Linked DNA regions of Homo sapiens: region 1 is linked to region 2. Evidence: fine-mapped expression QTL. A gene starts in region 2. The other region holds a variant in brackets. All regions are shown on one strand. Distances are from middle to middle. Region 1 overlaps LOC105371334 (a long non-coding RNA gene). Region 2 holds the start of TAT-AS1 (TAT antisense RNA 1).

The links. PIP is the estimated chance that this variant, and not a neighbour inherited with it, causes the effect.
Region 1: its variant is the best candidate, but not a certain one, in a credible set for the expression of TAT-AS1 in T cells (TOPMed, PIP 0.61).

The regions. Positions count from the first base shown.
Region 1 is chr16:71,596,784-71,602,161 of GRCh38, reverse strand. The region is part of intron 2 of LOC105371334 (a long non-coding RNA gene); the gene reads left to right. Among named protein-coding and RNA genes, the nearest start is that of TAT, 22 kb to the right of the region's middle. The variant G/T (reference allele first, on the strand shown) is at 2,412.
Region 2 is chr16:71,562,331-71,567,708 of GRCh38, reverse strand. TAT-AS1 (TAT antisense RNA 1) reads right to left here and starts at 2,693. Exons shown (of 3, transcript NR_103852.1): 1 at 2,587-2,693; 2 at 1,508-1,658. TAT (tyrosine aminotransferase) reads left to right here. Exons shown (of 12, transcript NM_000353.3): 12 at 1-2,049. It overlaps LOC124903710 (a long non-coding RNA gene), which reads left to right and starts at 2,769. Exons shown (of 2, transcript XR_007065106.1): 1 at 2,769-2,816; 2 at 2,885-4,056. It also overlaps the pseudogene RNU6-1061P. RefSeq lists an enhancer at 1,742-2,273.

The DNA of each region.
Region 1 (5,378 bases), 34 kb before region 2:
CACCACGCCTGGATACTTTCTTGTATTTTCAGTAGAGACGGGGTTTCTCCATGTTGGTGGGGCTGGTCTCGAACTCCCAACCTCAGGTGATCCTCCCGCCTCGGCCTCCCAAAGTGCTGGGATTACAGGCATGAGCCACCGCGCCTGGCCTTCTATGCACTGATCTTTACTGCATTATCTTACATATTTCTCAAAAACTCTGTGAAATAGGAAGATGATGATGATGATGATTATTATTATTTTGAGAGCAAGAGGGATCTCGCTATTTTGCCAAAGCTTATCTTGAACTCCTGGGCTCAAGCAGTCTTCCTGCCTCAGCTTCCCGAGTAGCTAGGATTGCAGGCACACGCCACCATGCCCAGCTCAAAGTAGGAAAATTATTATCTTCGTTTTGCGGGTGAGGAAGTGGAAGTTAAGTAACTCATCCAAGGTCACAGTTGACTTAAGTGGTAGATACTGGATTCAAAATCTGGGTTTCTCTAATACTGAAGTCCAGGATTTTAAACACTATAGACCAAAGATTTATTTCCACGCCATTTATTTTTTAGGATACATTCTCAAGAGTAAAATTCCTGGACCGAAGAATAGAGATCTTTTTTTTTTTTTGAGACGGAGTCTTGCTCTGTCACCCAGGCTGGAGTGCAGTGGTACCATCTCGGCTCACTGCAAGCTCCACCTCCTGCGTTCACGCCGTTCTCCTGCCTCAGCCTCCTGAGTAGCTGGGACTTCAGGCGCCCGCCACCATGCCCGGCTAATTTTTTGGATTTTTAGTAGAGATGGAGTTTCACCGTGTTAGCCAGGATGGTCTTGATCTCCTGATCTCTTGATCTGCCTGCTTCGGCTTCCCAAAGTGCTGGGATTACAGGCATGAGCCACTGCGCCCGGCTGAGATCTTTTTGTGTCACAATGTGTTTTGCCACTTTGTTTTTCCAAACAAAGAGAACTGTTGTGGCCTACATCTGAAACATAGCCATAGCAGATTGGAGTCCTGTGTAGTTATTTGTCTCTCTTCTGGGCCTCTCCACGGTTTGAGGACTGCACAGTGCCCTCTGAACATCGTTCTGTTTTCTGTCATAGCACCCATGGATGAAGTCCAGGAGGTGCTGGAGAAAACTGCAGTTCTCTAGACCTGAAGAGGTCAGTGATGACACATGGACAGTCCTTGCCAAGGAACGGCACCTGCATCAGCCCATCTGTGGGCCTGGGCGACCTTCTGCACACTGATGTTCGCTGTGTGCCCTATCCTGCTCTCATGCCCCGCCTCTCCCAATCGTACCTTGGTGTTGGTGATTCCCAACGTGGGTTTCACAATCTCCCAAGGAAGGTGGATGAAAGCAAGAAGCAGGCTAGGACCAAGGAGGGTGGAACTCTGGAACTCTGACTCTAAGAGCCAGTTTCCAGTACAGTCTGGACACAAACAAAGAGTGCTGTTCACCACGTTGAGACTTCTCCATTCAGCATCTTTTCCTTCTCTGGGAATGCATGTCACCCCCAGCAGGCTGCAGTCTTTACCTCCACATCCCCTATCCCCCAGAATTTGCTCCAAGTTAACTTTCACACAGAGGAACAAATGATCTATTTCTTTTTTTCTGTTTCTTAATTTTTTTTTTTAATTTAGAGACAGGGTCTTGCTCCGTGGCCGAGGCTGGAGTGCAGCGGTATGATCATAGCTCACTGCAGCCTCAAACTCTCGGGCTCAAGCCATCCTCCCACCTTGGCCTCCCAAGCAGCCAGGACAATCTGCAGGTGCTAATTTTTAATTTTTTTTGTTTATTTATGTTTTTTTAAAAATTTTTATTTATTTATTTATTTTTTTGAGTCAGCCTCACTCAGGCTGGAGTGCAGTGGCGTGATCTCAGCTCACTGCAACCTCTGCCTCCCGGGTTCAAGTGATTCTCCTGCCTCAGCCTCTGGAGTAGCTGGGATTATAGGCACATGCCACCATATCCAACTTATTTTTGTATTTTTTTTGTAGAGACGAGGTTTCACCATGTTGGCCAGGCTGGAGCAAAAAGTTTTTTGTTTTTTATTTTTTTGAGATGGAATCTTGCTCTGTCGCCCAGGCTGGAGTGCAGTGGCGCGATCTCGGCTCGCTGCAAGCTCCGCCTCCCAGGTTCACGCCATTCCTCTTGCCTCAGCCTCCCGAGTAGCTGGGACTCCAGGCACCCGCCACCACACCCGGCTAATTTTTTTGTATTTTTAGTAGAGACGGGGTTTCACCGTGTTAGCCAGGATGGTCTCGATCTCGTGGCCTCGTGATCCACCCGCCTCGGCCTCCCGAAGTGCTGGGATTACAGGCGTGAGTTACTGCACCCAGCCTGGAGTAAAAAGTTTTAAGCAAGGATGAAGGAGAGAAATGTGACATGATCAGAAAATACTTTGGGATGATATTACTCTGACTGCAATACGGA[G/T]AACAGGTTAGGATGAGGGAAGATTACCAAGGAGGCGATTACACATAGTTCTGCCAAGAGGTGATGGTGATGTAGCTAGGGCTAGGAGGAGATGATGAAATAAGGAGAAGGAAATGGATTCCGGAGATATTTAGGAAGTAAATTTTTTTGTTTATTTTGTTTATTTTTTAATTTTCCATAAGTTATTGGGGTTAAGGTGGTATTTGGTTACATGAGTAAGTTCTTTAGTGGTGATTAGTGAGATTTCGTTGCACCTATCACCCATGTGCACACTGTACCATATTTGAAGTTTTTTATTCCTCGTCCCCCTTCCACTCTTCCCCCCGAGTCCCCAAAGTCCATTGTATCATTCTTATGCCTTTGTGTCCTCATAGCTTGGCTCCCACATATCAGTGAGAACATACGATATTTGGTTTTCCATTACTGAGTTACATCACTTAGAATAATAGTCTCCAATCTCATCCAGGTCACAGGCAAATGCTATTAATTAATTCCTTTTTATGGCTATGTACTATTCCATCTCTATATATATACCACAGTTTCTTTATCCACTCATTGACGGGCATTTGGGTTGGTTCCATGATTTTGCAATTGTGAATTGTGCTGCTATAAACATGCGTGTGCAAGTATCTTTTTTGAATAATGACTTCTTTTCCTCTGGGTAGATACCCGATAGTGGGATTGCTGGATCAAATGGTAGTTCTACTTTTAGCTTTTTAAGGCGTCTCCACACTGTTTTCCATAGTGGCTGTATTGGTTTACATTCCCACCAGCAGTGTAGAAGTGTTCCCTGTTCACCACATCCACACCAACACCTACTGTTTTATGATTTTTTGATTATGGCCATTCTTGCGGGAATAAGGTGGTATCGCATTGTGGTTTTGATTTGCATTTCCCCGATTATTAGTGACGTTAAGCATTTTTTCATATGTTTGTTGGCCATGTGTATATCTTCTTTTGAGAATTGCCTATTCTTGTCCTTAGCCCACTTTTTGATAGGATTGTTTGATTTTTTTCTTACTGATTTGTTTGAGTTGGTCGTAGATTCTGGATATTAGTCCTTTGTCAGATGTACAGATTGTGAAGATTTTCTCTCACTCTGTGGGTTGTCTGTTTACTTTGCTGACTGTTCCTTTTGCTATGCACAAGCTCTTTAGTTCAGTTAGGTCCTAGCTATTATCTTTGTTTGTATTGCATTTGCTTTTGGGTTTTTGGTCATGAAATCCTTGCCTAAGCCAATGCATAGAAGGAGTTTTCCAGTGTTACCTTGTAGAATTTTTATAGTTTCAGGTCTTAGGTTTAAGTCCTTAATCCATCTCGAGTTGATTTTTGTATAAGGTGAGAGATGAGGATCCAGTTTTATTCTCCTACATGTGGCTAGCCAATTATCCCAGCACCATTTGTTGAAAAGGGTGCCCTTTCCTCACTTTACGTTTTTGTTTGTTTTGCAAAGATCACTTGGCCATAAGTATTTGGGTTTATTTCTGGGTTCTCTATTCTATTCCATTGGTCTATGTGCCTGTTTTTATACCAGTAGCATGCTGTTTTGGTGACTATGGCCTTATAGTATAGTTTGAAATCGGGTAGTGTGATGCCTCCAGATTTGTTCTTTTTGCTGAGTCTTGCTTTGGCTATGCGGGCTCTTTTTTGGTTCCATATGAATTTCAGAATTTTTTTTTTCTAATTCTGTGAAGAATGATGGTGGTATTCTGATGGGGATTGTGTTGAATCTGTAGATTGCTTTTGGCAGTATGGTCATTTTCACAATATTGATAGACATCCATGAGCATGGGATGTTTCCATTTGTTTGTGTTGTCTATGATTTCTTTCAGCAGTGTTTTGTAGTTTTCCTTGTAGAGGCCTTTCGACTCCTTTGTTAAGTATATTCCTAAGCTTTTTTTTTTTTTTTTTTTTTTTTTTTGCAGCTATTGTAAAAGGGGTTGAGTTCTTGATTTGATTCTCTGTTTGGTCGCTGTTGATATATAGAAGAGTTACTGATTTGTGTACATTAATCTTGTATCCTGAAACTTTGCCGAATTCTTTTATCAGTTCTAGGAGCTTTCTGGAGGAGTCCTTAGGGTTTTCAAGGTAAACAATCATATTATCAGCAAACAGTGACAGTTTGACTTCCTCTTTACCAGTTTGGATGCCCTTTATTTCTTCCTCTTATCTGATTGCTGTGGCTAGGACTTCCAGTACTTTGTTGAAGAGGAGTGGTGAGAGTGGGCATCCTTGTCTTGTTCCAGTTCTCAGAGGGAATGCTTTCAACTTTCCCCATTCAGTATTATGTTGGTTGTGGGTTTGTCATAGATGGCTTTTATTATATTAAGATATGTCCCTTGTATGCTGATTTTGCTGAGCGTTTTAATCATAAAGATATGCTGGATTTTGTAGAATCCTTTTTCTGCATCTATTGAGATAATCATGTGATTTTTGTTTCTTAATTCTGTTTATGTGGTGTATCACATTTATTGACTTGCATATATTAAACCATCCCTGCTTCCCTGGTATGAAACCCACTTGATCATGGTGGATTATCTTTTTGATATGTTGTTGGGATTCAGTTAGCTAGTATTTTGTTAAGGATTTTAGCATCTATATTCATCAAGGATATTGGTCTGCAGTTTTCTTTTTTGGTTATCTCCTTTCCTGGTTTTGGTATTAGGGTGATGCTGGCGTCATAGAATGAATTAGGGAGTGTTCCTTCCTTCTCTATCTTGTGGAATAGTGTCAAAAGGATTGGTACCAATTCTTCTTTGAATATCTGGTAGAATTCTGCTGTGAATCCATCTGGTCCTGGATTTTTTTGTTTGTAATTTTAAAATCACCATTTCAATCTTACTTATTATTATTGATCTGTTCAGGGTATCTAATTCTTCCTGATTTAAGCTAGGAGGGTTGTATTTTTCCCGGAATTTATCCATCTCTTCTAGGTTTTCTAGTTTATGTGTGTAAAGGTGTTCATAG
Region 2 (5,378 bases):
ACTCTCTTATTGCCTCACTTCAGGTATACCTCACTTTACACAATAGAATTATAACTGGAAAGAAGTTGGGGACACATGTATTTGGTGATTACATTTTAAACACATTAGGAAAAGTTGCTATTTGAACTTTTTATTGATTTTTGGGGGGAGTAAAGAATTATTTTGTGATGCAAATAAATATCCTTTAATTGATCGACTTGCCAAATTTAGATTTGTGTGCATCAGGCTTTCTTTTTTTTCTTTTTTTAGAGAAGTTCAATATAAGCTTTTCTTTTCTTTGTTTCTTTCTTTCTTTATTTTGAGATGGAGTCTTGCTCTGTCGCCCATGCTGGAGTGCAGTGGCGCGATCTCGGCTCACTGCAACCTCCACCTCCTGGGTTCAAGCGATTCTCTTGCCTCAACCTCCCAAGCAGTTGGGACTACAGGCGTGAGCCACCATGCCCGGCTAATTTTTGTATTTTTAGTAGAGACAGGGTTTCACCATGTTAGCCAGGCTGGTCTCAAACTCCTGACCTCAGGCAATCTGCCCGCCTGGGTCTCCTAAAGTACTGGGATTACAGGCGTGAGCCACCTCGCCCAGCGGCATCAGGCTTTCTTAAAGTGAGAGCACGCCTGTACTAGAGCAAGCAGGAATCAGAGACCTTCCAGAAATACTACTGTGTAAGGGCCAGAAATATCTTCACTTGTCATTGTTATATAATCATTATTACTTTTGCTGTAATGTTAATATTGATTTATTAATATATATTATCTTTTCATACATTTTCTAAGAAACATTTATATTGATAAGATCTTTTATTTTGCCAAGGGCATAAATTATTGTTTTTCTTTTTTTTTTTTTAATAAATTTCACCAAGTATGGCTCTTCTGTGATGTGTTTTTTTCTCCGTTTGGGAATTTCTAATCCCAGGCACTCCTCAGTCTCATTGTTTCATTACCTATGAGGTTTCATTTACTTCTTTGTAAATGTACTGACTTTTGGAGTTACTTAAGAACCACAGTTCCTAAAACATTTTATTTGGGAGCTCAACTTCTGGCTTCCTACTTACCAAGAGGCAGTAAGTTATAACCTCTGGCCTTTGTCTTTACATTTTCAACTTTCTGGATCCCTAACCTCTGGTCCCAAGTTACTACGCTTGCCTATATCCACTAACCACTCACTAGGTCACAAAGTTGATGGCTCTGGCTTGACCCAGTGAATGAGAAGTGTCCTAGATGTTTTTTTTTTTTTTTTTTTTTCGCAAATCTTCATAGGCACAGTTGCCTGTTTAATTTTTTCTTCAGCCCTTCCCTTAGAGGAGGGAGCCTTAAGTTACCTTTCAAGGTTGGGGGTTAGGAATCTATCATAACTAGTCTAGAGATTTCTCACCAAGGGAAATTTTCCTTATCTAAAAGAGGAACTTCAGGTCTCAACCCTGCCAGTCACACCCAATTAATGTCCTTCACAAAAATAAACAGCATATGTTCCCTTTCAATTTGAGTTCAGTGAGCTCACAGCAAAATTTACCTTTTAATTTTCTTCAGCAAATCCAAGACGAATATACAAAGGATGAGATTAGATAAAGATTTCAGTTTCCCGTATGCCACCGCTGCCGCCAATTTTCCAAAAAAGCCTGGCTCCTCTTTTCCTGTTCCTCCATCCAAGCCCCCAAAGATCTCTAACCAGAAATAAACAGGAAGACTCAGTGATTTACAAAAGACATTTTAGTTTTACACGTACAGAAAATTCTACCCAGCATTACAGAATTCTTAGACTTCTTAAATTCCTGATTTTCCTTGGTATTTACATTTTGATAAGGGAGCCAATGGTTCTTCAAACATTTGAAAAGAACACATACACACTGGACAATTTCAAACGATACAAACAAACGCAACTGTCCTTCTTTCTCATTCCTGTCCTTCAGCCACCCAGTTTCTTCTCCCCTGAGGGAATCAGTTATCATTTGCTGGTCATACTTCCAGATTATACTGTGCCTATGTAAGTGTGTGTGTGTGTGTGTGTGTGTGCACTTTTCATTTTTTCAAATAAAGTATTACTCAACTTTGTAATTCTGCGCGCTCTGGAGGTCAAAGGAGGGATGGCATTGCTGGGGTGTCCCCCACATCCTGAGTGTCTCTAGATAAAAAGGAGCTACCGGGCGGCGGCTGCTTTCCACACAAGCTTAAAATTGCCAAGAGTCAACTGCCAGTTGCTTTGGGTGGTGGCGTCAGAGTGTCTTCAGATAACACGAAGAATGCGTGTAAAGATCGGAGACGGCCGGGCGCGGTGGCTCACGCCTGTAATCCCGGCACTTTGGGAGGCCGAGGCGGGCGGATCACGAGGTCAGAAGTTTGAGACCATCTTGACCAACTTGGTGAAACCTCGGCTCTACTAAAAATACAAAAATTAGCCAAGCGTGGTGACGCGCGCCTGTAATCCTAGCTACTTAGAAGGCTGAGGCAGGAGAATCGCTTGAACACCGGAGGCAGAGCTTGCAGTGAGCCGAGATGGCGCCACTGCACTCCAGCCTGGGTGACAGAGCGAGACTCCATCTCAAAAAAAAAAAAAAAAGGACCGGAAACAAGGGCTCTCAGCTGCGAATTCACCTTTTCTTTGTGTCCGAGCCCCGCCTACCGGGTAACTGGAGAGTATCAGGACTGGGTGCTACCAAGCGCCTCACAGCAGCCCCCAGCCGACACCAACATCCCAACCCTGGGCGACCCGCGGCTGCGCAGGCGCGGATGCATGTTTAGGGGGCTGCGCTAGTCAGTGCGCATGCGCCGTCGCTAGGCAACAGGACACAGCTCCGGGCGCCGGCGTAGAATCTGAGCTGCAGGTGAGGGTTAGTTCCTTTATTCGGCCTCTGCGTTCTCTTAGGATGTTACATTTTGTTTCCTTTTTCAGCCTGTCTACCCTGGTCACACCCTGCTTCGAGTTTCTCTTCCTCCTTTGCCCCCGGTTTGGGCTCTGACTGGTGGAATTGTTCCAGGAAGTTGACAAAACATCCTAGGCTTTTGTAATCACCTGTTAACCTTTCCCAGCTCTGGATCAGAAGCAGCAACTTCCATGAGTTGTGACGCAGAGCAGACAATTCTATTAGCTGGTGTTAGTTTCCAATGGTATAGCCCCTTGGAACTTTTCTCCAAAGAATCGTGGCCCTCACCGTCCGCAGTGCCTGACATTAGGATCTCTACTCAGCCAGAAAAATAAATCCACCCCCGTGCCTTTGTCAAAGACAAAGCAGGACAGTAAAGCGGTTGAGACAGGTTTTAACCAGTAATATACTAATGGAATAAGGAGGAGTCCAGCACGAACTGAACTCAACTTTGATTTGTACAAATGTTACTCAGACTTTAAAGGAAAAATGGGGAAATAGGGAAGGGGAGAGGAATGAGGGGGCGCTCAGAAGAGTGAGGGAAGTGAAAGATTACAAAAAGTGCGAAGTAGGGGTTAGTCCATGTGAAACCCATCTGGGTTTGTTAAAGGGTGTTTCTGGAAGTTAGGCTTTTATCCTCCTACAGATGCTGGGAGATAGGAGCCATATCTTAAGGTGTTGGCTGGAACAGTAAATTCCTTTGGCAGCCTGAGTTTTTTTAGGCAGGCCCTTTAAAGCGGGGCTGGAGTCATCCTAGAGATGCTACCTTGAACTGTTAGAGACTGTGTTAGAGTTTTGTTCAAGTCTGTTGAGGCCTAGTCCACAAATGGCTCAGAGGAACCTGGCTAGAGTTTGGTCAAGGAGAGAATTTTTGTTACTCCGCATATTCTGCACATTATTCTGTGTGAGGTGTTGTATTTTACGTACCCTGAAGTTTGAATTATTGCATATATGTTGGAAAAGAACTGAATTCTCAGTACATATTATTTATATCCTTATTTATTTTAAACAATTTAGGTTTATTTACAAACAAGTTTCATATAATGTTATAGAACCTGCAAATACAGATGCTCTCTATAGGCCAAATTGTTTCACAGCACCTTCCAAAGAGGCAGTCAGTCATTTGCTAAGGTTAAGGTTGAAGCTGTATAGGAGGTGATGCCCAATTCCTCAAAGAAAACAATAAACAGAAGAACTAGCACATGTGTGTCTTAATTTTTGTGTGTTTCAAATGTAGAAAAGAATTATTGGTCTTTAACTCATTTGATAGCCTAAATTTAATGTATTTTTACGTTATACCATATTTAAAAAGTAAAGCTGTGGGAGTGTTCCCTTTGGCAGTGCATATTCTAAAATTGGAACAATACAGAGAAGATTAGCATGGTACTAGCAAACCAAATTCAACAGTATGTTACAAGGATTATACACCATGATCAAGTGGGATTTATTACTGAGATGCAACATATAAAAATCAATCAATATAATATGCCACATTAACAGAATGAAGGACAAAAACCACATGATCATCTCAACTGATGTAGAAAAGTTAGTTGACAAGATTTGACACCTTTTCACGATAGAAACACTCAACAAACTAGAAACAGAAGGAACCTACCTCAAGATAATAATAAGGACCATCTATGAATAGCTTGTATCGGCCAGGCAAGGTGGCTCACGCCTGTAATCCTAACACTTTGGGAGGCCGAGGTGGGTGGATCACCTGAGGTCAGGAGTTTGAGACCAGCCTGGACAACATGGCGAAACCTCATCTCTACTAAAAATACAAAAATTAGCCAGGCGTGGTGGCACATGCCTGTAGTTCCAGCTACTCAGGAGGCTGAGGCAGGAGAATTGCTTGAACCCAGGAGGCAGAGGCTGTAGTGAGCCAAGATCGTGCCACTGCACTCCAGCCTGGGTGACAGAGCAAGACTCCATCTCCAAATAAAGAAAGAAACAAAGAAAGAAAAGAAAAGCTTATATTTAACTTCATACTCAATGGTGAAAGACTAAAATCTCTTTTTCTAAGATCAGGAAAAAAGCATGGATGCCCACTTTCACCACTTTGATTCAACATAGTATTGGAAGTAGTGGCCAGAGCAATAAGACAAGAAAAAGAAATAAAAGGCATTGTGTTGCAGGAAGTCAGGGACCCCAAATGGAGGGACCAGCTGGAGCTGAGGCAGAAGAACATAAATTATGAGGATTTCATGGACATTTATCAATTCCCAAAATTAATACTTTTAAAGTTTCTTACGCCTGTCTTTACTGCAATCTTTGAACATAAATTGTGAAGATTTCATGGACATTTATCACTTCCCTAATAATACTCTTATAATTTCTTATGTCTGTCTTTACTTTAATCTCTTAATCCTGTTATCTTTGTAAGCTGAGAATGTACGTCACCTCAGGACCACTATTGTACAAATTGATTGTAGAACATGTGTGTTTGAACAATATGAAATCTGATTGTAAAACAGGTGTGTTTGAACAATATGAAATCAGTGCACCCTGAAAAAGAACAGA